Linked DNA regions of Homo sapiens: region 1 is linked to region 2. The links come from fine-mapping of genetic effects on plasma protein levels. A gene starts in region 2. The other region holds a variant in brackets. All regions are shown on one strand. Distances are between the middles of the regions. Region 1 has its middle 56 kb from the start of UNC5C-AS1. Region 2 holds the start of UNC5C (unc-5 netrin receptor C).

The links. PIP is the posterior inclusion probability: the model's chance that the variant is causal. Protein levels are from the aptamer-based SomaScan assay of Sun 2018.
Region 1: its variant is fine-mapped to the plasma level of the UNC5C protein (Sun 2018, PIP 0.95).

The regions. Positions count from the first base shown.
Region 1 is chr4:95,597,314-95,613,365 of GRCh38, reverse strand. No RefSeq gene overlaps it. Among named protein-coding and RNA genes, the nearest start is that of UNC5C-AS1, 56 kb to the right of the region's middle. The variant A/G (reference allele first, on the strand shown) is at 6,985.
Region 2 is chr4:95,541,687-95,557,738 of GRCh38, reverse strand. It overlaps UNC5C (unc-5 netrin receptor C), which reads left to right and starts at 8,766. Exons shown (of 16, transcript NM_003728.4): 1 at 8,766-9,005. The coding sequence starts at 8,882. UNC5C-AS1 (UNC5C antisense RNA 1) reads right to left here and starts at 8,591. Exons shown (of 5, transcript NR_183914.1): 1 at 8,508-8,591; 2 at 2,680-2,818; 3 at 2,046-2,146; 4 at 114-211. RefSeq lists an enhancer at 8,195-8,324.

The sequences.
Region 1 (16,052 bases), 56 kb before region 2:
AATAGTGTTTATCAACAAAAGATTGAAAATTACGCTTTGCAATTATTCTGTGAATTTTTTATGTTGGCTTCATAATTATCAAGCTTATTTAATCATTCTGACATAATCAAATGGTAAAGAAGATATATGACTGTACTAAAGTTCTAATATTGTGTTTTTAAATTTAAAAAAGCTCTCGGCTGGGCGCGGTGGCTCAAGCCTGTAATCCCAGCACTTTGGGAGGCCGAGGTGGGTGGATCACGAGGTCAGGAGATCGAGACCATCCGGGCTAACACGGTGAAACCCCGTCTCTACTAAAAATACAAAAAAAAATTAGCTGAGCGTGGTGGCGGGCCCCTGTAGTCCCAGCTACTCGGGAGGCTGAGGCAGGAGAATGGTGTGAACCCGGGAGGCGGAGCTTGCAGTGAGCCGAGATCGCGCCACTGCACTCCAGCCTGGGTGACACAGCGAGACTCCATCTCAAAGAAAAAAAAAAAAAGCTCTAAAAGGAATGTTGGCTTATTCTGTATCAGTGGCCTATTATATTAATAAAGATGTTTAAATTTCCTTTGGATTATATTTCATTAAAGTAGATATTATACAGAAAAAAATAATTACTTTGGTAAAATGCCTGGAAAGTATTTATGTATGTTTGCTCTAGCGTAGTGTGTATGCCCAGTTTCATGTTACTGTTTCTTAATGGACTTAATCTCTTGTAGTCTTTTTATTAATTAATATATTTTAATTCTATTTGACTAAGCTACCATATAAAATGTTGATATATTAAGGATTAATAATGAATAGGTTATTAATCTCGAAGTTCAGTATATAATTAAAAAGGGAATAAAATATAAAGTTTGAAAATAAAAATTATTTTAAATCCTTTAAAATGTATCCATGTATATTTAAATAAAATGAATGTATACATGTAAAATAATTCTGGGACTAGAAGAGTGTAGGGACCACCGAGTTCTGACATGAAGTGAGGCTTTAAGATAAATGTTTGGGATTGTTGAAGGCAGAAGGAAAGGGCACCATAACATGACAAGCTTTTGGTGATCAGGCCACACTCCCTGCCAGGACTTCTTGTCTGTGGGATGAAGACATTCAGCTTTACAGAAAAACTCAAAGACTCTATTTTGTCCACTTTCTAAAACTGGATATTTGAGAATCAGGGAATCCTATTTAACTTCCTGCTGCCTCCATGATGTGGAAATAAAGAGAATAGAAGACCTCCGTATTGATGAGGCCCACGAGCTTAATTTGAACAGGGCAGATCCACTGGGTTTCCAGGATGTGCATATGTGATTGAGGTGACAAGAGTGAACTCAAGTTTTCATAATTTTAGGGGTAGATTTTTAACTCTTTTTCCATAGTAAGAAGGACCTTGGGGTTCCTAGTGAAACTTTAAAATTATCTGCTCTACTGAAGGCCAGGGCCAATGGGAATATAACTGTATCAGAGGTTTTCAGAGGCTTTGATTCCTGGAGCATACTGATCAATTGCAATGGAAGCCCTTGAGGAAGATATAAATCCCAGGAATTACATACTGAGTGGATTACAAAGCAAAAACTTTGTGAAAACTGCAAATGTGTGATGCTGCTTTGAAAAACGGGTCAATGAAAGACAGCTGGAAGACCAGTTTTCTAGCCTTGTTTACATCATGGAAATGTAAAGAAATAAAACCTTCTGGGAGAAAGAATAAAACACGAAAAAAGAAGAGTTTGGGAAAGAGAGATTAATGCTTAGGAAGCAAACCAAACAAAGTCCAGGAAAATAATCACATAAGTTATAGAGCCTTAAAAATAAAACCTAGGAAACACTGCAGTACCTCAATATGCTAAGGGTAACAGGTAGTATCCTCAGGCCGCAGACAAGAGGGGCTCCTGCTCTGTTTCTTATGCTTTATAGGGTCCCACATTATCATACACACATGCGTGCATGTGTGTGCTTGCACAAATGGATTCAAACACACATAGGCAACTCCTTACTTTGATCTTACACTCAGCACTAACAGAATATGACCATTAAGACACCACAGAAAATGCTTCTCCACATTTCTGGTCCTATGAGTTCAAGTAGGTCACTGAGTAGGAAAGCCATGAAGGCTTGCAGGTTGTGCTGCTGCAAATGTAAGAGAAGAGCATGGTTCCTAGTGAGAGGGATTTGAGTGTGTGAAATTGCTCCAGGAATAAAAATGACAAATTAATTTTCTTGTCAAACCTTTTCTCCCAGGTACCATGAAGAACTGAATTCCAGTGTAACAAAGTATCAGTCTCATTAGTGCCAAGCATTGATTTTTATTGTTTTGCTTTGTGTTCCCAATAATGCCCCTAGAGGTACTCTTGAGTTTGAGTGGTATTTACAATAGTTGCACATGATGGCTGAAAAACATTTTGTAACATTAGACAATTCAGATTCCTCTTGACTATGCATATGCTTAGGTCTACACATAACCAGATGGGCTTGAGTGTTAGAATTCAAACATTCAAACATTGTAATTTTTTAAAATCAGATTTTATTTTTTAAATATAAAATTATCACATTTACTTATATAATTTTCAGTTTAAATATATTTACTAATTTTAATTTGTATTTTCTTTTAATTTTAATATATGATTTGAATATTTTCAAAGAATATGTTTTTATTTGTATTCAATTTAATAGCACAGTACTCAGGGTCCAGTCAGGAAAACAGAATCCACACCAGTTATCTTTACAAAAGGAATTTAATATGAGAAATTTGTTAAATAGGTTTTAGGGGACTGAAAGGGGAAAAATATAACACTGAGTAATATAAAGTTAGCAACTGCTGAAAGAAGCTACCACTCTTTGAGTGGGGTGAACAAAACGAAAAGATTCGGTTTTTAGAACCTAGAAGTTTATGTGTAGCCCTACAGAGCTGAGACCCAAACCTTTTAAAGAATAATACTAACCAGACAGTGCTGGTACCTCAGGGGCCTGGAAAAACATCCTCACGCAGCTGGAACTAGTAGCTAAGGAAGCTATGCCAACTTTCTGATACTGGTATCTCTTTGGGGACATAATGAGGCTGGTTCTGAAATATGAAACCAAACAAACAAAAACAGGAAACTGAAAGCAACAACCATTGTCAGGATAAAGAAACATTGCCAAAGGGACTCTAACAAGAATGGGAAGTAAAGTCATAGGGAAACAAGCCCTTCTTTCTACTGTCTTTCCTCCTTAAAAATTAATCAAAGAAATTTCTGTGTAAATCTTCAGTAACCTAAAGACTAAACTGCAAGATTAAACAACAATCCTTGAAGAAAGCAATAAAGTGGCATGCATATGTAACAAGCAAGGGAAAAGATGCCCAGAGTTTAAATCCCTCATGCCTATAATACAATTGACCAGGAGTCCCTAATTACTTTTCTTACATTATCCATTTTATGTTACCTTTGCCCTCAACGAGAACCTCGGCTGGTTGGGGTTCTTTATCTTACAGGAGGAACCAAAACTTCATTCCTAAAGAGTCTGAAACCCTAGTGTTTCTTACCTGTTTGTTTACCTTGCTGTAGCTGTTCATTAAATTTTACTATCAGATATGGAAATATTAAAAGGGACCCCAGGGAAACCACTAGGTTCTAGCCATAGTCCACCACAGCCTCATTATGAAGGAGGATCTCAATTTCTTCTTGATAATTACCACAGCCATTAGAGAGCCTTTACCAAGCCTTTCTTGCCTATTGGTTCAATAGCATAAAAATTCCAATATACATGTAGCAGTCCAATTCAGCGGAATTCTTCTCATGACCACTGTCATGCATTACTCCTTTGAATATTAATGCTCTAAAGCAATGTAACTCTTAAGTTGCAAGGACTGGAAGCAAAAAAAATAATCCTGTGGGTGAGTTATTAAATGTATTAGTGAGAAGAGCCATTCCCATGTCTACCCCTGAAGCCCAGAAATTACACAGTGAATTGGTCACTGATTCAAGCATAAACTACATTGTTTCAGAGTACTGTCTCCCAACTAGTGTAATTGAGTGTTATTAGGAAAACATCTTAATTTACCAACACATAGATGAAATATAATTTTAATTTTTGACATATTATGTTTAGTATACATTTTTGATGAAAATATATTCCATTTTGAACTCTTTAACTGTAATTACACTTTATTTCATAAAACCTTAGATTATGTTGATTGCATAATCATAATTTCATTCTAGAAATAAAATATGTTTGAATGGAGCTCAACAAAAGATCCTAAAAAGAAAAGAAAAAAAAAAACAGAAAATCTGCAAAGAGTTGATCTTCTTATGCTTTACATATGCTAACAAGTAATGCCAGCTACTCGAGAGGCCAAAGTAGGATGCTCACTTGAGCCCAGGAGTTGGTAGCCAGCCTGGGCAACATAGTGATACTCACCTAAAAAAAAAAAAAAGGTGTAGAAAGCTAACAATAAAAGTGAATAGATGACATGCAAAATACACAAGTGAGATATTAAAAATACTTAATGATGCTTTAGTTACTAATAAAAACATAAAACAGTACAAATATCATTTAATTATCAACTTAAATTGATGAGATGAAATAAGACATATTATTTAATGTATGTTATAATTAGTAATTAAAGCAACAGAAATATAAAAGAGAACTACCCATATCAAATCCATGATTCACAACTAACAAATGTAACTCTGGACTGCCTGTTAGAAAATGAAGAGAATTATATTCATGCTGTTGGTAAATTGAACAAGGGAAAAAACAAAGGTTCTTGATGATTAACTATGTTTATTGGGTGGTATTTCTGGAAAGTGGTGATCATCATTTTGAGAGCATGAGAATATCTCTAACAAAACATAGTGCTAGTCAAATTTATTAATACAATTTTCCTTTCTATTATCCTGGCAGAATATTTATACTTATATTTATTCTATACCAAAAATTATTTCAAATATAGAAAGAGACTTTAGAAATGGGCTATTTTAAAATTGTGATAAAATATACATAATGCATATAAAATTTACTGTTTTATCAATTTTTTTTTTTTTTTTGAGACAGAGTCTTGCTCTGTTGCCCAGGCTGGAGTGCGGTGGCATGATCTCAGCTCACTACAAGCTCCGCCTCCCGGGTTCACACCATTCTCCTGCCTCAGCCTCCCAAGTAGCTGGGACTACAGGTGCCCGCCACCTTGCCCGGCTAATTTTTTGTATTTTTAGTAGAGATGGGGTTTCACTGTGTTAGCCCAGATGGTCTTGATCTCCTGACCTCATGATCCTCCAGCCTCGGCCTCCCAAAGTGCTGGGATTACAGGTGTGAGTCACCGCGCCCCGCCCATTTTATCAATTTTTAAGTGTACAGCCTAGTGGCATTATAAACATTCACATTGTTGTACAATCATTACCACTTTCCATCTCTAGAACTTTTTCAACTTTTTCACTATTTCAAAATGAAACTCTTTACTCATTAAACAATAACTCCCCATTCTCCACTCCCCCTAGAGAAATGTTCCTTTATATTCCAAATGCAAAAGCAAAGTATTTAGTTTCTACTATTAGATTTTTCACAACCAATCTTCAAGATCGACTTTGGACTTCATTTGTGTATTAGTCCATTTTCACACTGCTGTGAAGAATAACCAGGGACTGATTAATTTTTAAAGGAAAGAGGTTTAATTGACTCACAGTTCCACATGGCTGGGGAGGCCTCAGGAAATTAACTTAAAATCATGGCAGAAGGTAAAATGGAAGCAAGGCACACCTTCTCAGGGCAGCAGTAGACGGAGAAAGATTGCAGAGGAAGTACCACACTTTTAAACCATCAGATCTCATAAAAACTCACTCACTATCATGAGAACAGCATGGGAGAAACTACCCCCATAATTCGATCACCTCTCACCAGGTCCATCCCTCAACATGTGGGGATTACAATTCGGGATGAGATTTTGGGTGGGGACACAGAGCCAAATCATACCAATTTATGATGGGAAATATTCGAATTAGCAAATGAAAGACCAAAGTAGGAAACATCACTTGCACAGAAACACACACATACAAACAATTACTAGAACCAGGGGCGAAAAGAGTGAGAAAAACAATAGGAAATCAATAATATTCAACACAGATGAGTAAATGCCAATATAGAACACTTGTCTCATGCAACCAGAAGCACCTTTCAGGAGCAAAAAGATACCTGGGCTTCTGTTCTTTATGCTTGTACTCTAGGCACCTACATCAGTGTCAAGCTAAAATTTTGTTTCTAAACCATGTTATGTAAAAGTGCACGTATTTAATCTCTTTCTTCGGGATAATAGGAATTCTCACTTAGAGTGTCTATAGTTTACTCGAAAAAGGTAATAAGAGACCATTCAGTACTCAGAAACTGCAGAGTTAAAAAATAAAAGAAGTTTCTATTTGGAAACAGAGTTCCATTGCTCACATTGTGAAAGCCACTCTCCTGTGAGCCTGTGGTTCCTAACCACCATGTGGCCTGGCTGGCCGTCGGGGTGCTCACCCACGTTTGTGTGAACATGTGCATTCTCCATTTCCTCCTTTCCCATGGGCCCAGGACGTACATTGGCATATTAAATAATACATATGCCATAAAAATCACACAACTAAAGAATTCTTGGTGTTCAAATCTGCAGAGAAGTATCTGGTCTTTGAATAACAAAACCAAAGTTTGCTAGCCCACAATGCTTAGTTATTTTCTGTTTCTATTTTAGGTATAATTCCTCCCATTTTAAAAGAGCATTTTTTTTAACTTATGCGTGTGTTCCCTTTTGTGAAGAGTGAGAGAAGGTATTTCTTTTAACATAGCAGTTAAAAAAAAAACATGTGGCTGGGCGCGGTGGCTCACGCTTATAATCCCAGCATTTTGGGAGGCCGAGGCAGGCAGATCACGAGGTCAGGAGATCGAGACCAACCTGGCTAACATGGTGAAACCCCGTCTCTATTAAAAATAACAAAAAAATTAGCCGGGCGCGGTGGCGGGTGCCTGTAGTCCCAGCTACTCGGGAGGCTGAGGCAGGAGAATGGC[A/G]TGAACCCCGGAGGCGGAGCTTACAGTGAGCCAAGAATGCGCCACTGCACTCCAGCCTGGGCGACAGAGCAAGACTCACTCTCAAAAAATAAAAAAAGTTACCTGTATTATTTTGGTGTGTTTTTTTTTTTTTGTTTGTTTGTTTTTGCTTTTTCTACCTTTTTCCATTTCATGGAAGAACGCTGTTAGCATAAAAACCAGGAGCTAGTGGGTAGTGACCCAGTGAGGTGGGTTGTCAGCCACAGATAAAAAGGCAAATACATTTAAAAGGCCATTTGCTTTCAATGACTTATTAGGTAAGAGATTTAAGCCCTTGAGTTTCCCCTACCCCCACCCCGAGGGCATTGTCTTTTACTCTGAAAGAAAAGAGAAAGGAAACAATTTTTCTTTTTTTTAGAGAATGCCAAACATAAAGTAATTTTTAAATTTATTATATTCTTAAAGGTTGCAAAAATGGATGGCATAAAGAACTGATAAATCTATCACTCAGTTTTGCCCTCTAAGTGACTCTAAGCGATTTAGATGAGGTGCACATTGAAATGGGAGAAACGTCAAATTGAGCTCGGATACCTTTGTCACTCACCTGGCAAAATTAGCTTAATTTTGTATGAAACAAAGTTTTGGGAACTGCTTTCGCTATTAACATTTTATGTTTAGACATGGGTAGGAAACTTTTATTTGCATGACTAGAGCCAAACAAACTTTTATATTATTCAGGAAAAAAGATACAGGCACAACCAAAGGAAAAATTCAAAGGATGTTACCAGGAAAAAGAAGGGGAAGGAATAGTCTCACAGTGATGTTAAAAGACACATGATTTTCAAAATGGAGAAATATGCACTTCTCAAGCTATCTATGACAAAGAAGAAGGAGAACGGACAGCCCTAACTCCATCAAGTTCAAAAAGTAGGGCTCTGTTGTCATTCTGGAGCCTTGACTCCTTATGGTTGGGGACCAGGTTAGGAATTTCTTTCTCTTTTCAGGTAGCTGGAAGTGGACTCCAGTAAAGCTGACAGAGAGGCCATAAAGACCTGCACTCTTCTAGGCCACTTTCCAGATGGAGGAAAGAACAAAAAAGAAAAAAAAAAGCAGAAAATCATTTTCACCACATTCAAATGTATAAGTAGAGCCTCAATTCCCATAAAGGCTCTCCTTATACATTTTATTTATAAATCATATTAATCCTTGGAAGCCAATAAGAGGCCAACTAATGCACAAGAAATGCTCCTTTATAGTATAAATGGATGACACCTAAAACTCTGTACAGTGCTGTAAGTTAAACACATGGACTGGGAATCAGCTTCTAGCATTAAAATGTTAAATTCAGCGGCATAACTTATATATACATACACACACGTGTGTGTGTGTGTGTCTAATGCTTTAATCAACCAATCATACTGGAGCAATACTAAAAAAGAAAATACAAGCCAGGTGCGTTGGCTCACACCTGTAATACCAGCACTTTGGGAGGCCGAGGCAGGTGGATCATCTGAGGTCAGGAGTTCGAGAGCAGCCTGGCCAACATAATGAAACCCCATCTTTACTAAAAATACAAAAATTAACCAGGCATGGTGGTGCGTGCCTATAACCCCAGCTACTCGGGAGGCTGAGGCAGGAGAATCACTTGAACCCGGGAGGTGGAGGTTGCAGTGAGCCGAGATTGCACCGCTGCACTCCAGCCTGGGTGAAAGAGCTAGACTCCGTCTTAAAAAAAAGAAAGTACAGAGCTATGCGCAGGTCATTTGTAAATGTCAACACAAGTTCATCACCTTAAAGAATTTTCCATTTCTTTTTCCTGTCTACCATTGCAGCCAAATAGTTCTGTATAATCTCATCTAATCATCAGTAAATTATATCTAAAGAGGCCAGCCATGCGCAGATTTCATTTCACCTACACTCTAATTTTACTCTCCTGTAGTATCCTTTCTTAAATTAAACCAGGTAGTTTAGAAAGGTATTTGAAACTATATTTGGAGTTAGTAAAAGAGCAAGAAAAAGGGCAGGACATTCTTGTTGTTCTCAGGGATACGAAACATGAACCAATATAAAACCAAGAATCCAGACTTCTGTGAAACTCCTCTAGAAAGGCGGTGATATATGGAGCATTAAAGGTAGTAACACAGTAATTATATTTCTGTAGTAAATAGCAATGGTTACATAATCATTGCAGTCATTTAGAACATGTTGAATGTATCAAAAGAGCCATGTGCATTTGTGTATGGATTTTCTGGTATGTATATAATTTCCAGTGTTTTTATTCAAAAGTTTGCATTTGAATCAAAAAGAACTATTTAACAAATTGTATTGCTTTCCTGTGAATTCCCAGGCACTTAACTGTTCTACTGGTGATACAGCCATGTACAAGCAGGCTTAAAATCCCTGCCCCTATTAAACTAAAATTCTGTTGCAGTTTTTATTCTCCAGTTTGGGTCAATGTTCATCTTCCAAATTGTGAATGGTAAATAGAAGTAGAAGAGAAAATATAATTAAGAAGCACCTTTAAAAATCATGTAGTTGTACTATAGTCCACTCATTTTAACTTGGGGAGTATAACTGCATAAATATTAAGACATATGAGGATCATCTAATATCAGAACAACTAAACATCAGTCTATGATAAAATTCAGCACGGCTCCGAGCTATAATAATCTGTAGATCATTGGTGATATCCAAGTTTAAGAGTTCTGGGGAGAACAGCCTCCAGCAAATCTTATGAGAAAGCTGAATATTTTTAAGAGTTGATTTTGGCTCTTTGTACAAGTTGAACTCTAATATCCTCAGGCGGCTCACTACTAACCTAACCACAGCTGTCACCCTTCAAGATTTGGCCACTTAAGATTATACCCATAAAAATACAGCCATCGAACAAGGAAATCCAATTCTCCAACCAAGATATAAACTGGATTTTCCTTTAGATAACTAAATAAAACTCAGTGAAAATCAGTTATAGATTGTTGGCCAGAGAGGTGGGACCCAAGGGCCCTACTTTCCACCAAACCTATATAGGTCAACCCTGTAGCTGCCTGCCTGTCTGCCTTGGTTACTACTGAGGGCAAAGATGGGGCTTTATGATAACCATTTGGGGGTTGCCTGATATAAAAGAAGAAAGTAATAAAACATGGACTTTATGACAACCTTTTGATTCTCAAATAGGGATCAGGTGCCAATCACAAGTAAATCTGAAGATGTCATTTCATGTAGCTTTCTCCATTGATTTTGCAAGTTTTAGAGTCTTACTACCACTTGTTGCCTCCTTCAATGAAAGGCCACTCCACGTGGAGTGGAGATAAGACAGCCTGGGACTTCCCAAAGGTCAAAGCCTTCTGGAACTTATTTCCATGAATTTTGGAAGCCTCTGGGCTCTCCAAACTCAAACTTTGTGACGCAGATGCTTTATGTTGTGGATATGAGCTGATGACAACAGTGAACTCAATGAAATCGAGCCACAAAACTTAAAAAGAGAATATGACAGGTCATGCTGATTGAAATTTATTCAAATATTCCAGCCTGATACAAATTCCATTTTCAGTGATGTACATATAGAAAGGCCACTTGTCATAAAAGCCAGATCTAGTATTTAATATCTCTTTTCCCTCTAATTTTTATTTTTTGGAGATGATACAATTAAACACACACACACACACACACACACACACACACACAACTTGTGTATAAGCATTGTATCACCCCTGAACCTTTTTTCCCCACATAAAATAAACTCAATGTCTTTTTCTCATACTCTTTCAAGAATTTTCATTAATTATATTTTGTTAATAAGTAACTCAATAATTTGTATTTGGAAATATTTAACTCTTATATTAAAATTGTTCAGAGGGAAATGTATTTCATAGACAAGATGAAATTTCCCCCATCACAACGTTATGAAAACTGAATTTCCTCTGTTTCACATTAATTTCTATACCTTCCTAATTTTGTTTAATATTGATAGCACTTCCACTACACCTGCTACTCAGGCTGAAAACTTCAGGGATTGCAGAATGATGTCTTGTTTCTCTATTCTCCCTTCTTTCCTTTCTATTTCCCCCAAACTTTCATCTGTATATCATTACTAAATATTAGGTAAAATATTCTCCTTCCTCTCTAAATTCCTTCCCAAGCTTCATCCTAACCCCAGTTGTTTGGACTTCTATACTGTGACTTACATTTAGTGCACATCCCCTTGTCACTGCCTTATTCTATGTGAGTGCTTGTTACAAAGATGGAACTTAGTCCTTTAATCCAACTCACTTATCCCTTCCTGGAAGCCAAATTTCCAGTCAACCTCTGCATGGTTTATACCTCAAAGATAAATTTTAGGTCCTCTGATTCTTAGGAATTGAACGGGAAGCATTTGGGCTTGACCCTCAATTGACGTAAGAAGTGGCACCAGTCTCAGCTCTTTAATGTTAAGCCATGCTCCCTAGTGCATTCCTCCAGGGGTTATTTCCCTCCCCATGCACCCCTCCCAACATGTGCTAAGTGCTTCTCTACAAGCCCCTTAGATTCTGGGTTTAGCATCCTGAATTTGCAATCCTGGATATGCTGCTCACTAGATTTGTGAACCTAGGCAAAGTGATCAGCATCTCTGGGCCCCGGTTTCCTACCTGTAAAAAAGGAAACACGGATAGCACTTCTTTCATACAGTTGTGAGAACTGAGTTAGCAGAAAGTTCTTAGAACGATGCCTGGAATCTGAAAAGCACCAAGAATATTTTCCATTATTTTATTTGAAGGATACATAAATTGGAAACATCTCAAGATTCTTTTTCAGTTGGGCACTCTAGTTCCTCTTTAGTGGTTTCTTCTCATGTGTAGTTTCCTGCCTATCCTCTCTCACCCCTTAAACTCAAGCACTATTCATCACTTTAACATACTGAAATGCACCTGCTCCAGGAAATATTTCTATACATACCATATATCCCTCCTATTACTTTGTTATTCTTAGTCCTAATTCAGGCAGGTGCATGCGCACGCATGCATGTGTCTGTGTGTGTACATCACATATACGTACACATACATATATAATTCATTGGCATAATTTTAAACAAGTATTACAACTGTCCTAAAATTACCCACATATTGGTTGCTCATCTCCTCAATTAGATTTTAAACTCTCTATCCGCTCATTTTTCCTATCTAGTCCAGGACTGTAGCAATAGCATACTAATTCATTTTTAAAACTCTTCCTTATTATGTGCCAGGTACAATTACATGGGACATTACGCTTAATCCTCACAATGACCCATGAGGTGAATATTATTACCCCCACATTGATGAGCAAACTGAAACCTTGAGACTACATAATCTGCTCAGGCAGGACTTAAATCTGAGCTTTCCAGGCTCTTAATAATTTTCTTTCCTACAGCGAGTTTACCTACAGTACTTAGAAAGCACTTATAGAGAAAAGAAGTGACTAATCTGAATGCTGTCATGAAGTAACATGATCTTCTCTTAGACAAGTCCAGAGAATTAAATTTTAAAAGTTTCTGTACTTATAGGAGTATAAGTTTTAAAGTCTGACTGACTTATGGTCAATACTTGGCTGCAACAATTCCTGATGGCATGAGCTTAGGCAAGTAATCTAATCCCTCTAAGACTTGGTTTCCTCATTGATAAAACAGGATACTATCAACCTCAAAACACTTTTTAGGAATCAAATGGACAAAACCATACAACGCACATAGCTTAACTCTTTAAAACAACTCAACACAAGTGTGGAAAAAAATTCCATGGAACACTTAAAGGTGGACTGATGTTTGAGATGAAAAACAAAACAAATATCAGAAGTATTTGGAGAAGCCGAAGTGGGATGACATGGAGGGTAGGGGATGTGGGCGAATTTGACGTAATTAAGTCTTTATCGCATAAACCTAGTTCTGCCTTTATATTTAAAAATTAACATGGTTTATCATTTGTTTCAATTTTCTCAAGTATGTAAAGTGTAAGGAAATCTAAGGATTCATTATACAGTTTTGGTTCTGTAGAGTTGTCATGGAAATACTCTATTTTGTTTATCTTACTTATTTATATATTCTTCCTCTCCACATACACAGATAGCTTGTCTCTGAAAGGCAACCAGTTTCACAATTCAAACGAAAAGATCTCCTCCCACCTCCTGGAAGTAGAGATGATCGAGCTTGGGTTTCAGTATGACGGCTCATACTGAAGAAAGGAAACCAAAACAACAAATTAAAAATCATGAGAAAGCAAAGAAATTCTAAGTTCCTCTTACATTTATAAACCTACTTCTGAATATCCTCAAACGACTTTCTTAAAACTGAATTCATTCTAACGCTATGAGTCATTAATGTGGTAAAATAGTAGAAAACAAATTTCAAAGTGACATAATCTCATAATCTTTCCTTGTCAGACTCCCATGTCATCTCCTAATTGTTACTGTATACAATCTACACTGGAGAAGGGATGGCATGAGTAGGTGACCAAAAGGATGCACCTTCTAGTGCCTTCCTAGGCGATCGGGCAAGTGGACTTCTGCATGTATGCCATGAAGAGTATTTTATATACAAATGATGATCACAGTAAACTGACTGATAGAGATAATTTTGACATGTTTTATTTTAATCAATAGTAAGGTTATTAATTAGCTATCTTTCACAATAGAGAGCTTTGGCCTCACAGACTTGTATCATCAGTTCCATGTATCTTCACTTTCTCAAGAGTCCTGAGCATCCCCAAATCAAAAACGAAATTATCTTTGGCAAGAGTAATATGCTGTTCAAAAAAGGATAATGCTTGATACAAGTTCTTGGTCATCTAAAGTTTAATATTAAATCTTGCCCTTATCAAAATATTAATACTGCTTCACAGAATAAACATGGTCTTATTACCCACAAAGGGAAATTTCTTTTTATTTTTTTCAACCCACTGTAGCAATACTGCTATTCTTAAAGATTGTGCTCAAATTTGTAATATAATATTCTTATCTCCTTTCATCATACTGCAATATATTTTTTCATGTGGATAAGACTTATAGGACTACAGTGTCTCTCTCTTAGTTGCCATATTCAGAAAAAGAGTATTTTGATAGCTTTCAATATTCTAAAAGTTTAGTGCAGGTGTCAAATTTAATTAAAATAAGTGTGTATAAGTAAAAGTTGTAGAAAATCAGGCTGAATATAATATATTGATACTGGATCTTCTATTTAAAAGGTCATTTTCAACTTAAAATAGAGATGCTGAAAAATCCAATTTTCTGATACCTACTAATTTTCCTGCAATTTTCTTCTTAAAAATTCAATGAAGATGGCAATCTTATCAACTGAGTATATTTTTATTGAATATATTTTTGCATATTCTTGCATATGTATGTATGAATGTACATATTTAACACGTCACACATTTACTTCTAGTAGAGTGCCTGACATATATGAGTGGCTAAATAATATTAAATAATTTTAAATACTGGAATTTAGATCTTTAGGGTGAGGGAGGAGCATCTAATAATGTTTTCCTTAAATAAAAATATTTAATTATACAGTGAAAGTGGGCCATGAAAATGTCTTAAAAATTCTATCTAGTTGACAGGACATATTTTTCAATATTATTTAAAGAAGAAAATATTGGAAAAAAGTTCTGTGCAGCTCAAATATTTAGATAAATCTATAGAGTGAACTTTAATAATTAAATATAGCCTAGTGGATAGTTAATATAAAGCATGATGCAGTGCACACTTTTATATCTTAATATTTTTTCTTTTATGTTTGCATTGCTCTTCTAACATAGTCCATGCCTATATTAAACATTAGATACCAGAAAAGTATCTGTTTTGAATAGAGAGGCTTTAAAAGCCTAAACTCTAGATGAGAGTATGTTTTGTTCTTTATCTATGCATTTTGGTATTATTTAAACATGAATTTAATGACCAATGCAGGCAAAATATGCACTTATCTAGTATATGGGTTCCTACACAGCATTCGCTTTAGGTACTCACCTACTTTAATTCCTTATAAAACAATATTACTAGTAGTCAGATTTCACAACTCACGCTGCCTTTAGAACATCAAACTTTTTTTATTACTGTCACTTCATTACCTTATTCTAAATCATACCAACGTCCTGTGACCTATTTCATGAAAGGCAGAAATTGTCAGGAATGAACTATCATATTTAAAATCAATATATTCCCTAAAGCAATCTTCTATAAGTCCTTTACCTCCTTTTAGTTGTTGCTGTTAAATCAACTAGGACCTCCCTTTTAATTGATGCTTTTGTACTTTTAGTGACTCTTCTAACAATGCTTCTATTATTGGGCATGTGTTTTGAATAGGTTCCTTTTCATGGAGTCATTGGAATAACTAGGAACAAAAATAATAAATTTGATGTATTGGTTCACTGGAGATTTAATTTTCTGTGGATCCCTGCTTTTACATTTAGTTAAGGTTTAAGAGCTCAAAGTATTATTCTTGACAACATGTTAAATGTTTGAGGTATGGATGTATAATGGAATAATGCAATAAATGTCTTGTGTCCATATTGATTTTTTAGATGAATCTGCTTTGAAAATTCTGGCACCCAGCAGCCCAATAGTATTTAACCATGGTAACCTTTGAGTTTTTTTAAAGAGTGTGGCACTTCTATACTCAGGTGTAATCCCCAGCAGACTCTTAGCGAGAGAAGGAGAATTGATCCTAATCCTCTCGTGCCCTAAGGTCATTTCAAGGAATCAGGCTCTCAAGGGCCACACTGCCAGGAGAGCTAGGCAGCACCAACAAGTCAAGCCACAGTGTGATGTTTTCTACATTGTCTGGTATTACTTTCAAGAAGAAAGTGTTCCTTAAGAATGAAGGAATGACTGGCGCACATAGCTCTGCAACATGTGACAAACAGCAAGCACTATTTCATGCCTTCACATGAGACTTGTTAATACAAGTTTTTTGATGACTTTATGAGATCCCTTAGAAAGTTGGATAAACTAATAAAACAATGAAGGCAGTCTGCCTTCACTGAACATAACTGAAGGACCAACAACATGTGGAAAATCAAGGAAAGTATTTATCGTGCATGGTAGATGCCTCAGGATTCATGCATACATGTGATAGCAAAGACAGG
Region 2 (16,052 bases):
GAATATTTAATAACATAAATTTCTCATCCTGTGTTCTGGCAGTAGTAACCACCATCCCAATCCGGCATCTTGTATATATAGCCTTCACTCATTTTCTGCTTACTACTACTTACATCCAGGCTCTCGCTGCTTCTCATCTTGATTGTTGGAATATACTCCTAAATGGATACTCCATGATTTTTCTTCCCACTTTAGTCCAGCTTGCACATTGCTGCAAGAAATGGTCATGTTATTACCTCATTGCCCAAAGACCTTTGGTCACTTCCTATTCTATGCATAATGTGGGACAGACTTCCTAGCAAACCACAAAACACCTTTGAAAAAATAGCTCTATCTTCATTTCCAAATTTTCCTGCCAGTATTTGCCTGCATCCAGATAAATTCAACTTCAGATCCTAAGTTGACACTAATTTAGCATAGGCAAGTTAACCCAAATAAACCTCAATTTCCTCATGCTTAAAATGAGGATAATAATGATACCACTTCATATGTAGTATTGTTGTGTGTATTAAATGAATATCTCTCTTTATACAAAACAACGTGTTTGATTAATGAGTGTTCAAAAATGTTAACAATTATAATTTATATAATGATAATGATAAGAGCATTAAGCATGATGCTTTCTGGCCTCCAACCTAAGTCACTCAGTATTTGCTATTCCTGTGCTCCTTTTGCCTGCCGTGGCTCCAGTTCTTTCTTCTCCCCAACTCAGCAAAAGCAAATTCTATTTATCCTTCAAGACCTGGGTCTAATGTGCTTTCACTTAAGATCTCACTGATTCCTCAATGTGAAGTAAGTGTCCTTTCCTCTCATCTCCCATAGTGATGTTTCTATAACTCTCTCACCGCACTTTTCAGAGTCAGCCTATTTAGTTCTATAGTCTGTCTTATTTTCTATTAGCTTAGTAATACTATCAGGGAGATTGTCATTTTATTTATCTTGAGCTTAATCTGAGGACACGATTTCTCACACTAGGCACATTAGACACCTCTTGCTGCAACAGTGCTGCATAAAAAATTAACCCTGAACTCGGTAGCTGAACACAAGCACCTTTTTTTTCTTGCTCATGAGTCATTTGGTCTGATGCAACTCAGGCTCTGGGCTCCACACAGCAAGCACAAGGCTCCAGGCTGCCCATCTCTCCATGTGTCTCTTATCCACCTTGGTTTGGTGGTTACCTGGAAAATGTTCTAATGCCTTAGGACTAATGGTGAGAGCACATGAAAATGAGTAGAGGTATGCAATGGGAGCAACTGGCACACTGTAGCACCTGCCCAAGATCACTGGCCAAAGCAAGTCCCATGGCTAAGCTACCATCAGTGAGAGAGGAAGCCAGTACGACCCACAGTGCAGTGGGTGGTCCTGCAAGGCATAGTGCAAAGGAAATAATCGGGTAATTCTATTAACTGGAAAGGAGTAAAGAATAAAGAATACTGCAACCTATCATCCTCTGTTCATTCTAGAACTGCTTTTTTAAGGACAGGAGTTCCCTGTAATGGTCTTTGGAAAAGCAGGTCTGGGGCAGTGAGGAATCATTGAATAAGATTTTAGGACAGTAAAATGACAGGTTTTACATTTTAGAAGGTCTTTCTGGGAGGTGTGGAGAGCATGGATTAGAATGTAAAGGCAAACTAGCTACTAAGGAAATAATTACAAGACCTCTCGGTAACAAGCAAATATATTGTGAGTCTGTAGGGCTGGTGATAATGGGATAGATCCTGTAGCCCTTTAAGTAGTGAAATTGAATGGACTTATAAAATAGTAATTGAATAGGTGATGTGGGCAAAGGAGGGAGATACTGAGAATAGCTCCAGAGGTTATACTAGGGTGGTATCATTCATGTATAGAAAGCCACATCACTAATACTATTCTTCAGATGATTATGTAAATTAAGTACAATAGACAATGTAAAGCATATCTTACCATAATGACATCTTCAGTATAGACATATTACAAAGCACTTTCACACAGATTTTATAGTCACAGGAACTTTGTGCATTCATATTGTTATCATTTCTTATAACAAATACGTGCAAAGAACTTACAGGGATTTCTGAGCAAATAACTTAGATAAATGGAGACTTAAATTCATGTTTCCTGATCCGGAGTCTTCCCACCATTCCATTATGTATTTTATTTCTTCCATCTGTAAAATGAGAAAAACGACTATGGTCTAACTTGGCAGATAAATTTAAAATAAAATGAGATATTAGAAAAGCTCTGGTAAGCAATAATTATAATCTCTATCCCCAGTAATACTCTTCTAAATTAGATATTCTATTATTTTCCTTAAGTTTTTATTGACCTTTTCATTGTTTGCTCCCTCTAATAGCAGTTACAACATGCTACACCAATGCAGAAATCACACTGGATTTTATTTATCTCTTCCTTTATTTCTTCTTTTTGTCTTTCTTCTTTCCCTTTCTTCCTTTGTCCCCTGCATCCTTTCTTCTTTTCTCCCTTTCCTTTCTTTTTTCTCCATCTTTCCTGGTATCTTTCTTTATTTTTTGCTTTGCTTCTTTTTTATAAATATTATTTCTACAGTCCAACTATAAACTCCATGAAACTCTACCTCAATGCTACACAATTTCCAAAAGTTCAGTAAATACACTTTAGTGAACTGAATAATGGAGTCCTTTCCATCTTTCTATTTCCCAATGTGATAGAAAACACACTCACCCTTCCCCTGTTTTGGAGACTCCAGAGACTGAGGCAAGAGGATCACTTGAGGCCAGGAGTTCAAGGCTGTCGTGCCCTATAATTGCACCTGTGAATAGCCAGTGAACTCCAGCCTGGGCAACATAGCAAGACTCCATCTCTAAAAAAAGAAAAAAGAAAAAAGAAAACACTTTCCTCCCTTTTCTCCTTTTTTTCTCAACCAACTATAGAACTATTTTTCATTTACCTGTAATTCTTCAAATACACCCTCAAATGCCCTGTCTTAATGTCTTTCTTTCTGTGCCTTCCCCTTGTTGCTCCTCTCCAACAGAGTTGTGTCCAACTCAGATGATCTGGCCAACATGCACAACACCCTTCTCCTTATCCACCATTTGTGATTGATCTTAGGGGGCTATTTGACAGACCGTCAAGGAAATGGAAACTACTTGGGCTGAGGGCTTCCAGAAAAGTTATTTGGAAGGCATCTAGGCTAGATGCAGCCCCTCAGGACTGTTCCACCTTCTTCTGCCTGAAAAGTGAAACATGACTCCTGGAGGTGGAAAAGCTATCAAGCAACTGTGAGAATGAAAGCTGTACATTCTGGAGCATGGAGCCAAGACATGAAAAGAGCATAACTGAGCTTCCACAGTGGCCATGTACTGTCTACTCCCAGGTTCCTTATCGTTAGAGATAAATACACCCATTGTGTGAAGAACAGTATTGCTGATACACAAGTGTGTGTCTTACTTTTAGGTAAATCTTCTTCTCAGGCTCCCATATCCTTATATTCCCACAACATTTTTGTGTTTATTTAAAATCCTTTTGTTTATTCATTTATATTGCCTGTAAGATTCTGAGCCATTGCTACACAAGGACTATACCTCATGCATATTTTTCCCTAGGGATCCTAGAGTGGAACCACAATATAACAGGGGGGAAGTGAAAGTTTTCTGAATTGAATTGGATTTAATTCTTCCAGTCAGTTAATGGGAAAAGCAATCCACAGGGGGCTGGCTGCTCTTCAGCCTTTCTTAACTAGTGCTCTTCTTTTGCTACAGTGATGTGTTGTTGCACAAAAGCCTGGAGAACTCATCTTGCCTCATATACCACAGAATAGGGATTTGTTATTTTGTCTGCCCTACATCCATTCTCTTTGGCATCTTTTTTTTTTTTTGTATTAATCATTTTCTATTGTATCCTTTTGGAGAACCCCTTATCCCCATTTTCAATCCAAGTTTCCAGTTGGCAAATATTGGCACATGACCAGGCCTTGCCATTCAGTATATGCCAAACATCTGGCCATGGTAATTGCCTCAGTTGTGAGTATGTGGCCCAAGATAGGCCAGGGCCATAATTCTGTATTTATTTTTTGCCATTTGGAAACGAGTGTGCTTTGTGTTGAGATTGACAATGATAAAGACAATGTAAACCTGGAGCTGCTGGGAATCCCAGGATGGAGATCATAAGTCTGTGAATGAAACCAAAACAGAGGAGAGCATAACCAAGATATTGAGGGTGGGGGGAAGTACTAAGTCCCATGAGTGATATTTAAATTCATGGGTCTAAGACATCATCCCTCAAATCAGACTGTCGCTAGTAAATACTAACTGTGTGTGACCTTGGGCAAAGTTACATAACCACTCTGTTTCCTCATTTATGAAACGGAGATAATAATGGCACTTTCATTCAGTTATGATGATTAAATGAGATAGCACATGTAAAGAGCTTAGAAAGTGCCTGACACACAGTGAGTGATAGTAAATGGTATCTATTATTAAATAGATATTTCTTATCCATAGTTTTTGAGTTATGCACAGTGATAAATTATCTTTTTGCTTAAGCTGGTTCGAGTTGGGTTTCTTTCACTTGCAACCAAATGGGTCTTATCTAATAGAATTAATAAAAAGCAGAAAGCCCTAGAGAGTTTTGGTTTATGACAAGTTAAATCTCTTTCTCTGGGCTAAGGCAGGGAAGGAGGATTGAATCAACTGAATCTAGACCATCTGGCTCTCCTTCGTTGATGTCTATCAGTAACATTATGTGAGGTCTCTGAACTCCCAACTTGTAGGAAAGGAGTTTTCCTCATCACCATCCTATTTATTCACTAAAATCCTCTTTCTCCTATGTTGCCAGTTAATGCAGTTAATAATATCCCTGGTATGAAGATTTATTTTTAAACCTACACAAAAAATATAAAAAGTGAGGAATCAAACATATAAGGAGAGAGATACAATGAAAGAAAATATTTCCATAATTAAAATATATGATCAATTGTTTTTGATTTAAGCTTTAAACTGGAAACTTTTTCAGTACTAGTTCCGAGTAAATGATATTATTATGAAGCAGCCTACATGCTAAATAGCATACTTTTCTTGGTGTAGATTTCTGGAGGGATATGCAGGGGATTTGCATGCTTAATTCCCATTAGCACCTGTCACTGGGATTTATTATCCTAGAGTTAATTCTCCACTCACTGCAGCCAAGAAAAAGAAAGCCCTTGTATATGGATTTAAATGAAGCTTTTCATTTTTCAAGATGAGATGAATTTCCTGTCTGTTCCTTAAACACCTGCAGTATTCCAACCCTAAAAAGTCAAATTCCAATAAATTTTTGGTGAAAATTTGGCAAAACTTGATTTTATTCAACAACTAGAAAAGCCTACTCATAATTTGATAACTTGAGAGGCTGAAGAGGAGAGGAAGAAGGTTTAATGAAGGACTTAGCTCAATTTTAAATCCATTGGTTCTGATTCAATCCATTCAATATTCAGTAAGTATTTATTGATCACCTATTATGTACAAGGTATTGTTCCAGGTTCTGGGTATAGAGCACTGAATGTATTAGAAAAAAATTTCTCCCCTGAGAAGCATACATTTTATTGCAGACTGCATATATATATACATGTATACACACACACACACACAAATATATATATACACATATATGTACATATATAAAGTAAGTGTTATATGCAAAATCAAAGCTGGCAAATGATATTTTGGATGATAGATTGTTGCTATTTTAGGTAACTTGATCAGTGAATGCCTCCCTAAGCAGTGTCATTTGAACCCAGATCTCGATGACTTTAGTAAACCTATTCTCAGGAGCCTATAAAACACTATTATTTCTCTCATGAGGAAAAAATGTGATGATCAACAAAAGTAGTCAGGATGTTAATTCACAAGACAAGTTCCATCTGTACTTGTAGAGAGCAGGAAACTTGCCTGCTGTGTAAAGCTGATGTATTGCTGGTGTTTTTCCTGTCCTTTGTGTGGTGCTCTCACTCTCTTCCCCCTTTTCCACCTCATTACTCTATACCACTTCTCAAACCATTCTCCTGCCATCTTTAGGCTGAATTTCAGTATTTAACTACATTTCCTCTTTTAATCTCGTATTCTTTATTTTAAGGAACTAATTGCATGTGGTATCTGTCACTGAGTACCTCAATACCCCAAACAGGAGTAGGCGACAATTTCAACCTTCTTTAGCTGTCCTAGACTTTGAGGAGTCTTCCCCATTGAGCTTTTTTGGCAGGAAATCAGTCAATATTGATTGAGTACCAACTATATATCAGGCTCAGTTTAGGAGCTGTGGTTGAAATAATGAACAAAGGCAAAATCTCTGTCTTAAAAGAGTTAAATTCTAATTTAAGAAGACAGGCAATAAAATTGTAAATAAATAACTTTTGGATGTCGTTGATGTGATGGTGAGTATGTGTGGAGATTTCTTAGTACTTAAGCTGTTGTCCTTCTTAGTAAAATTGTACATATAAATATAAAGTATAATAATAATCCCTTGTGAAGTCATTCTCAAAATACTTGACAAGTTATTAGTGGCCTCGATACACCATAAAATATGGTAGCTGCTGGCCACATGTGACTATTTAAATTAAAATTAAATAAAAATTTCCAATTCACACTAGCCACATTGCATGCAAGTAGCCACATGTATCTCATAACTACGACCTCAGAAAGTACAGATATGAACATGTTCTTCATTGCAGAAATTTCTGCTGAACAGCACTGGTGTAGATAGCATGAGGCTAATGGGAATTTTTCATCAATGGTAAGAACAGCAGTTTACAATTTTGGCGTCAGGCATTTTACATATGTTTAACTTACATAATCCTCAAATAACCCTATGAGATAGTTCCTGTTACTAGACCCATCTTACAAATTAGGGAAGAGAGGCACCTAGCTTTAATGTTCAATATCAGTCAAGTAATAAGAAATGCTAAGAACTGAAGGCAGACAGTCTGGTGCCAGCACCCACCCTGTTGTCAAATATCTTGATGTCTTGGTATGGAGAAGATGAAGAGAGTGAAGAAGGGTTTTGTGTGGTGGACAGAGTCTCCACAGAAATAAGAAGTGGCCAGTTTTGTCAATGTCTTTGGCAAATACTACCTTTTCGGATCTCCCTGATTCATCCGAGATAGGTCTTATTGCCTAGATGGGGCTGTGCAGGCAGAATCATAGAATGTTAGAACTTAAGAGAACTTTGAAACTATCAAAATATTTCACAAATGAAGAAACTGAGACATTCACAGGTTACCTGACTTACCCAGGGTAACAGAGTAGTTATGACCACAGCCAAAATTAGACCTCATGTTTCCTGCGTGTGTGTGTGCATGCGTGTTTACACATGGCCCCCTTGGCACCAAGAGCATAAAATTCCCTGATGTATTATTAGTTTAAAGACATGCTAATCTTGGGAAGTGATTTTCTTTTTCCCAAAATGTTGTCTGTGTCTGTGTGTTGACCTTTTAATAAATTCACTTTCCTTTTGTCTAGTCTTATTTTACCCACCCAATCTTGCATCCCTCCATCATGACCACAGGGATTCACAACCCAGCTACGTAGACAATTATTTCCTGTAGAAAGGTAAACAAATTCATAGCAGCTCGAGTTCTTACACACACTATTAGAAATTTGAAAAACATGTTATAGGCTCCACCATCACTTTGAGTATCTACAAATTTTGCTTTGCATTTTTTTTTTCTAAGAGAGTTTCTCTCGGTATCGCATCACCACCCTTGTCAGCCACCAACATGCACGCAAAGAAAGCACTGTTGCAGAATGAGTTTCCGTCGAGCTTTTAGTTTCTGTTCCACTGCAAAGGGGTCATACGCGCTCAGAACATAAAGCAGTCTGACTGGCGCTGACAACCCCAGGACAGCAGCCGGCTGGGGCAGTGCAAAAGCTTCATGCCTTCTTCCCCAACCAAGAAGGACTTCAGTTCGAGCCCGCACCGGCTTCGTCAACCGCGAGACCCGAAGTCGTAGACCGAGTCCAGTCCTAGGGAATTCGGCTGAGGCTTTGCCGGCGCGGCGAAGAAGGTGGCAGGCGGCAGGCTGAGCTCCACTGGACACAGCCTAGTGGCCCGGGGCGCGCCCGCTGCACTCCCGGCGTCCAGGTCTGGCGCACCGCGGGAGGCAGGCGCGCTGCCACTCTCCGCAGCCGCTTCGTCCCCTGGTCTGTCTCGCCTCGGCTTCAGCGGGCAAACCCACAGCTGGTCTCCTGGGCGCTGATCTCCCTGCAATCCTTGCTTACATAAGGCGGGCGGGCGTGCTCCCGCCCCCGGTTACCCCCCAGAGGAGTTGTGCTGCGCCCTCTACGCCTCCTTGGCGAGCGCCTTCGCGCACCCGTGCGCCCTACTCTAGGATGTGAACCTCCTTGGCCACCCAGCAGCGACAGCCGGGACATCTCTCCGCCGGCGTGAGAACACTGAGATTGGAGACCAGAGCGCCTGACGGTGCCCAAGCTTCCTCCCTCCGTTCCCTCCTCCTCCAACTCCCCCCACTTCAACCCCCACCCCCACCCCCACCCCCGGTGTCTGTGTGTGTTCCTCACAGGCGAGGGGACCCGGAGAGCAGTCCAGACTTCGGCGTGCGGCGGAGCTGCGGCTGCTCCTGCTGCTGGGGGGAGCGGCGGAGGTGGCCGCCTTGCGCCTCCCTGGACTTCCCAAGTGGGGGCAGAGCAGTCGCTCGCGGGAGACGTCAGTTAGAAGGCATTGGGAAAGAGGGACCTTCAAACTCCTCCTCGGCGTCTCCTCTCCTCCCCCTTTTGGCCCCTGCCTTTGGAGAAAGTGGAGTGTGGCGCTTGGTTGTCGTTATTTCTTCGGACTGCTTCGCGGTGCACGGATTCAGCTTCTGCCCAGTGGGGCTTTCAGCTGTTTGCGCGTCTCTCTGTCCCCCTCCCCTCCCCCCGGCACACCTCTGTCTACGATGAGGAAAGGTCTGCGGGCGACAGCGGCCCGCTGCGGACTGGGACTGGGATACTTGCTGCAAATGCTCGTGCTACCTGCCCTGGCCCTGCTCAGCGCCAGCGGCACTGGCTCCGCCGCCCAAGGTAAGGGGGTCCGCCAAGCTCCGCGGCCACCTCCCTTAGCTTCTTCCTTCCCTCCTTCCTCTCCTCCTCCCCAGTTCTCTTGACTTCCTCAATTTGCCTCGTTGCTTTCAACTGGAAACCACTCTAAATTCCACTTTCCCAACTAGTCAAGAAGCTTTGATTATAATAATAATAATTATTATTATTATTATGTTTAATCTATCTTCTGAGATGGGCACGAATGGACCAGGGACGAACGGGGTGTGGACACGCAGCCGATCCGTCTCCATACGTGTGGGAGCCTGGAGTGTCTTGTGCCCTTTCAGCTCCGCACGCGCACGTTGTTGCATATTGCACACACGGAGGTTTGGAAAGACTCTCGGTGCGGGTGGCTGTGTGACATACCGTAGATGCACCCCGAAGCGCATGATGCGCAGAGGCTCCCCGCGCTGTGCCAAGACTGGGGTAGCAGGATCTTCACTGAGTCTCTGAGCACACTAGACCCCGAAGGGCGCTCAGCTAAGGAAATGTGTCCATTACTGTCAAGGACTCAAAAGCACCCGTCCCCCTCGCCTGCTGCTTCAGGTGCTGTGGAAATACACAGCTCACCCGAATCCGCGTACCCGGCTGGAGGCAGGCCCGGGATGTGCATGCCTCTGCACTCATACATACCCCGCTTCATGCCTGCTTCCCACCAGGGGATGTAGAAATGAAAATCCCGGAGCTCTGGGGGAACCGGCTGCTTGTTCAAACCAAATCCGAAACTCCCCGGGGTAGTCGACCAGTTTATAACTCTGACATTTTAATTTAACGCCTGTGAACTTTAACATAAGTGACCGGGGCCCTGGGCGAAGCCGGGTTGGGAAGAGTGTGGCCGGGAGTTGGGGATGGGTAAGGGAGGAGGGGAGGCTCCGGAGCTGATCGCCCGGCTCCCTTCTTGTCCGCCTAGTTTGAAGTGTTAGCAGCAGCTCCCAGCCTTCAAAGCCGGGAAAGCTGACTGGAAGGGAGCGCAGAAGAAAGAGCCAAGGCTGTCCCCTCCGGGGTCTCTTTCAGGTCACCTGGGCCCCAAAACTTCTGGCCAAGCCCAGCTCCTACTTGGGTCTCTTAGCCCACTTCAGTGGTGATAGCCGGCTCAGGCGAGGCAGCTCAGCTTTTCCTGGAAGAGGAGAGAATGAAGGAAGCTTATGCAGCATTCAGAGGCAATTCAGGGATTCTCCCTTCACTCTCGGTTACTCTTCCTTCCAAATTTGGAGAGTAAAGGGAGGCTTTACGATAGCCCCAACTCCCCAGGTGATGTTCAGACACCCTAGGGTTTCCGGACAGCATTCCCTCTGATCTTAGAGAGGCGCTGGGGGTGGGGATGGGGGTGTTGGAAGCGGAGGAGAGCGCCTAGCATAGGAGTGCGGTCTGGGTGGAGAGGTAAGTGATTAGCAAGGCTTTGTGAATTAGCGATAGCTTCTTCGGAAGTAAATTTTCCTGCTGCCCTGCTAAGTGGCCCTGCTCATAAATCCTTCCTTCCTTTCTCGCCAGATGCCTCCCATCCCTGAGGTTCTGCTCTGGTTTTCTTATGCACACCTCCAGAGTTCATCTGTCTGTCTATTTAAAAAGGAATCTCCACCGAGAATCATAGCTTGTGGATTTCCTAAAATTGATAAGAAGTTCTCAGGGCGCTAGCCAAGGGTGCTTAGAGGGGGGTGTTTGGAAGCTTAAGTGAACAACCTTATGAATAGTCGTGGAATCAACCGCGCGACTCCCTGTGGAATTCGCCTGCTGTTACTGGGCATACAAAGGACTGAGCCATGGGGGTGGGTGGCGGGAGAGGGGGACGGGGCACGGTGAGAGAACTGTTTGGGAAAAAGACAAGTTAAAGTCCCCAAAGATGCCAAACAAGAGATAGGATTCCTGCTAAGAGCTTACAATAACCAAATTAAAAAGACTGGGTAGAAAAAGGATCAATAAAGATAATCAAACAGCAGATTGTAAATGGATTAATATTGAAAGAAGAAGGGAGAAGAGATTAAAAAGAAAAGATGCTTAGGATAGACTTTTTCTCTTGCACTTTTTGTAGCGTAGGCAAGTTAAAGATTGGGGACTGATTCTCATCTTAAGTGGAAAAAGAAAATGTACTCCGTTGGGTGTATGCATTTCACTGCAGTTCTTGTCCATTTCGTTTATTTAGTTCCTTCAGTTTTTGATTAGTAAAATTTTTGTTTGAATCTCATGGTCTGTAAAATGCACTATTCCACCGCTTTTATCTTTGTTATCCTCCATGTTCCAGGGATAGCAGCTCTTCCTGTGTTGTCTGTTAGTTATCAAAGGAAGGATAAAGCACCAAACTCCACTATCAGCTACTACCTTCATCACTGCAGTACAGTAACCCAGCCTGTTTATCTTGAGCCACCGTTAACACTTTCCTTGCAGAATCACACATTTTATAAATGGTCTGATAGTCAGACCTCCTTTTCCTTCTTATTCTTCTTCTTTCTCCTTTCCTTGGACTAGAACACTAGCCCATACCCTCAAGGTATGATTTCCTTGTGGTGATGACTTAAAGATCCAAATGAACTATTTCTTATGAATGAAAGTCCAAGAGCAATTAACATGGGAAAGTTACTTTAAGCACTTTACAATGTGGATGAGGTTTTTATTCTGTTGCTGAAGTACTGCAAAAATTAGAAGTATGTATATATATCTTCAGAGATAATCAAGGAAACAACAGATATTTAAGATAAAACATAGAATAGGCATTATTTGTGAGTGTACTGAGTTTTGTAACTGTGGTTTAGGCAGCAGTCATTTTCAATAGGTCCTTGGGAAATTCTCTAGGCTGTAGGCAACAACTTTCTCCTTTCTGGCTATGCCCTAATTGTTTCATTCAGGATTGCTGGGAACTCCTAGCTCCAGGGAATTTGTAGTGTTTGTGACTTCCAAGAATGAAAGATTTTACTAGTAAAAGGCAGTGTGTGTGTGTGTGTGTGTGTGCGCGCGCGCGCGTGTGTGTGAGATCAGTGTGCTTCTGAATTAGGACCCTCCTGGTTTATAAATGCATTTTATCTGGGCTACACAGCATTGATATGCTGCTTATCTAGCTCCAACTAGTGTTATGAGTGTTAACACCACCAAACTCAGGACAAAAAATTACTGAAGTCTCTAATTAGATTGGGATAATTCCCTATTATCTTAATTCATAGTTTTTTTTTTTAAATAACATATGTCTTCCTACAAAAGAGTAAAAATTCCTTTATGCATGTTTGCATATTGGTGTGGTACAAATAGACAGTCAACAGTGAAGACAACTAAAGTTCATTACAATTCTATCGTATACTTTTTCATTGTAGGAGTACAGAAAGTTTATGAATTCACATTAGGAATATGCAATAAGGAAAAGTAGGCTAGTTTACTTCTGTTTAGAAAAATAATTTTGTGTATTCTAGCTTAGAGAATGCTTAAAATCTTCAAAGAATAAACTTTTCAAACACTTGCAAAGAATTAGGAATCATTAGATTATAACTGACATTTATTGACTCCCTGGACTCCTGTATTCTGGATACTGAGGGTAAAGAGTTAAATAAGACAGGGTCCTCGAACACCTCCTATTGTAGTTTGGAGCTGGTTGTCCTAGTCAGAACTTGTATGGGTCTATTTTAAGCAACCCCCCCTAAGGACATGAACAAGGCATGAGCTCTGCTAAGTAAACCCTGTTAGCTTATTTAGAATTATTGTTGAGACTTAAACATAACTGTTCTCTAATGTATGCTAGGTTCTCCAATTAGTGCCAACAGCAAGTGTGCTCTATTAGGCCTTAACTGCGTTTAACACTTTTCTGATTTAGGTCATGGCTTTGCAGAAGCAGCAGAGGGAGTCACTCTCAGAAGAAACATTAAAATTACAGGCTGCAACCACTTTAGGAAGATAATGGGGAAAATTGTGGGGGTTGAGATTGAGCCAGTGCTATTGCCTTGAAGTTTTAGCCTACATATTTTTTTAGTTTGACTTTTATATTTGTGGCAGTTAAAAACAAACCTGTTCACATTTCCTCACAAATTAGAAACAATGGCTTCTATGGATAGAGTATGGTATTAGAAGTAAAGTTCTTAAGCAATTATTGTGCACTCATATTGCATCCTAGGCTGAATGCTATTTGTTAGAAACGGAATGTAACCAGGCAGTTTAAGCCCTACAGGAAGACAGAAGTAGAACCATGGAATTATAATTCACTTTCTTAAGTATAAAAGCGGACACAGGTATAGTACTTTCTGGATTCAGACATCCGAAGATAGTAAACATAGGTGAAGCTAGGATTCTAATGTGAGTGGTGGGTGGGGGGTTCTAAAATTTCTACACAGAAGAACGTGGGAGCAGTGATTTGGCTGGAAGTTGTATGTTCTTGAAGCTAAGTTTGCGTTGCAACAGCATTTTACTTAGATTTAATGCAAGTTTCATCTGGCTCTGGGGAGGCACAGGCTAAGAGCTGTTAATGGTGTATGCCCATTCTGTCAGTTAACATAGTGATTACCAATGTTTCCTAATACTGCTTCCAGCACCTCCAGCTGTGTGACTATGAGCAAGACATTTAACGTTTCCGTGCCTTAGTTTCCTCATATGTAAAAATGAGGATAATATATACTACAGGTTACAATTAGAGCAGCTTTTAGCTCATAGAAAATAAGTATTATTCCTTGACTTTCAATTCTACAAACCGTTGGCAAAGAAATCTAGATGTAAAAGAAACTAAAGGTCAATAATTTTGAACTCAGAGTGATGATAGCTGCTGACACTGCTTCCCCAAAAGCAAGAAATGGAGCTATCTGAAGAGATGCTGCGGAGTAGATCATTGTAAACTCCTGGACAGAGTACAGTTCTCTGAACAGCCTGTGGGAATCTCATTCCCTTCCACAGTCTCTTTTCTTCCCTTCTGTTCTCTCTGGGAAAATTAACCTAATATTAGTTCTAAAAATGACACGTTAAGTCACTCCCAGTTAAGTCCTTGCAAGAAGCTCGTCCTTGACTTTCTATTTTCTCAAGGGATACTGAAAGATAACTTTTCATAAATCCATGAACACTATTACAGAAAAAAGGTACACCCCAGGATTTCTGATAAGGGTTTGGGGAAAATCAGACCTTTATGTGAATGTGGACAGTTTTTCTTTAAAAGAAAATGGACACAAGTATATACTCTAAAGAACATAATTGGTTTTCTGTTCAAACAAAATAAACATAAAAATAGGTCAACACGAAGGCAAAGAAAATTCACCAGAACTTTCATTTATTCAAACTATATTTGCAATAGGAAGTTTCGTTATCCTAATTTAAAACAGCACAGATAATCTAGATGACATATATTTTGGTGAAATATTTGCATCTAACTCTTATTGTTTAATGGTTATTGCCATTCTTTGCATGTTTGGAGCAAATGTTTTCTGTCAGACTTTTGAGATAAAATAAGAGATTTGTAGGGCATTTTATATTACTTACGGTTTAGATTTTTCTCCTACAAAATTGTCATTCTGCTTCTATTATTGGTTCTGGTTCTGCACTCTTTCTTTTTTAACCTGATTTCTTAAACCTATGTATGGATGCTTCTTTGGTTTCATTTCTTACTTGGATTTGTTATTGCTTATGTATTTGTGGAGGAGGGCTACATGAATATGAGACCTTTGGTATTATTCCAGTATCTCTTAGCTCAAGGATGTTTTACTCACAGAAACTTGGTGCTGTTTTTTAATGCTACTTTGAAGTAGAGTAAGTTTGCCTTGAGCGATATTCAAACACTAGTGTTTCCCTTTTTTCTAGTTTTAAAAAAAGAAACTTAGTAATGGGATAATTTATAGTTTCTCTTATTTTAAATATTTGTTATTTTCAAACTTACAGAGATTTTAATAAAAACATTTTATAGGAACACTTTTATGAGCTAACAAGATCAGAAATAGAAAACTTTTTTTTTTATCCTGTCTACCTGTATGGAGCCACCAGAAGAATTTCTGCCTTTTCATGAAAACCCAAAACATATATCATGTTGCAGATATTTGGACTCTTTATGAACAATATGTTTGAAAATATTGAGCTGAAATTTCAGAATTAAAAAAATAGTTTTGTGTTGAAGTTGTACTGTGGTTTTTTGTTTTGAGCATTGCTGCTCCCCAAAATGTTGCTCATATATAATGAGATTTTGAAATACACAGAAGAATGTTTCCAGATTTTATAAGTATTTAAAACATACCTCCCCTTCTACATGGAGTACATAGTGTTAAAGTTGCCATGACATTAATTAAGTTGAAGTTACAATTTAGAAAGTGAGCTATAGCTTTGAAAGTGCCAAATATGCAGATATTTGTCCTTAGGTCAGTATAGCTTTTATTAGCAATGAGCAGTGATTCAAAAGTGCCTTGTGTGGCAAAAGTGAAGTATAACATCTGAAAATCCCCATGTTTGGTGAATACCCTCTTTTAGTTAAATAACTAAACACATCTTATTGCCAACGTGGTAGTGGAATGTGAGCGTGAGGGGAGCCGGGTGAAACTTCATTATATAGATATGCCTGTTAGAGTTCTTATTTTAAATACCAGGGCTCACAATAATCATATTAACAGATGATATTGATTACTCAGATTTAACACCAGAGTTACCAGTCTTACTTATTTTAAAATGTTGTGAGGATAGGGGGTTTTATCTTCATTAATCATGTTGTCATGTGGATCCTGTGGCTAGTTTCATTTCTCAGCAATTATGAGAGCTATAAAAATGCCTCATGTAGATGACCATGGATTATATCCTCTTCTAACTGACGATGTGAAACAACAGAAACTCCCTCAGCACACTTAACAAGTTCATTGATGCATGCTAGTATTTCTCAGTTTTAGTCAATCTCTTAATTGATTATTTAATCATGGACTGCCTGAACTCTATTCTTATTTATTGTTTTCTCTCTTTTTATTTCTGTTCAGAAGAACCACCTTATATGTGGATATTTCTTTCCAATAAAAACAGAATAGTGCTTGTTTATTAAAATGCATCTACAGTCCAGTTGTAAGGGATATATCCATAAATAGAAATATATCCATAAATAGA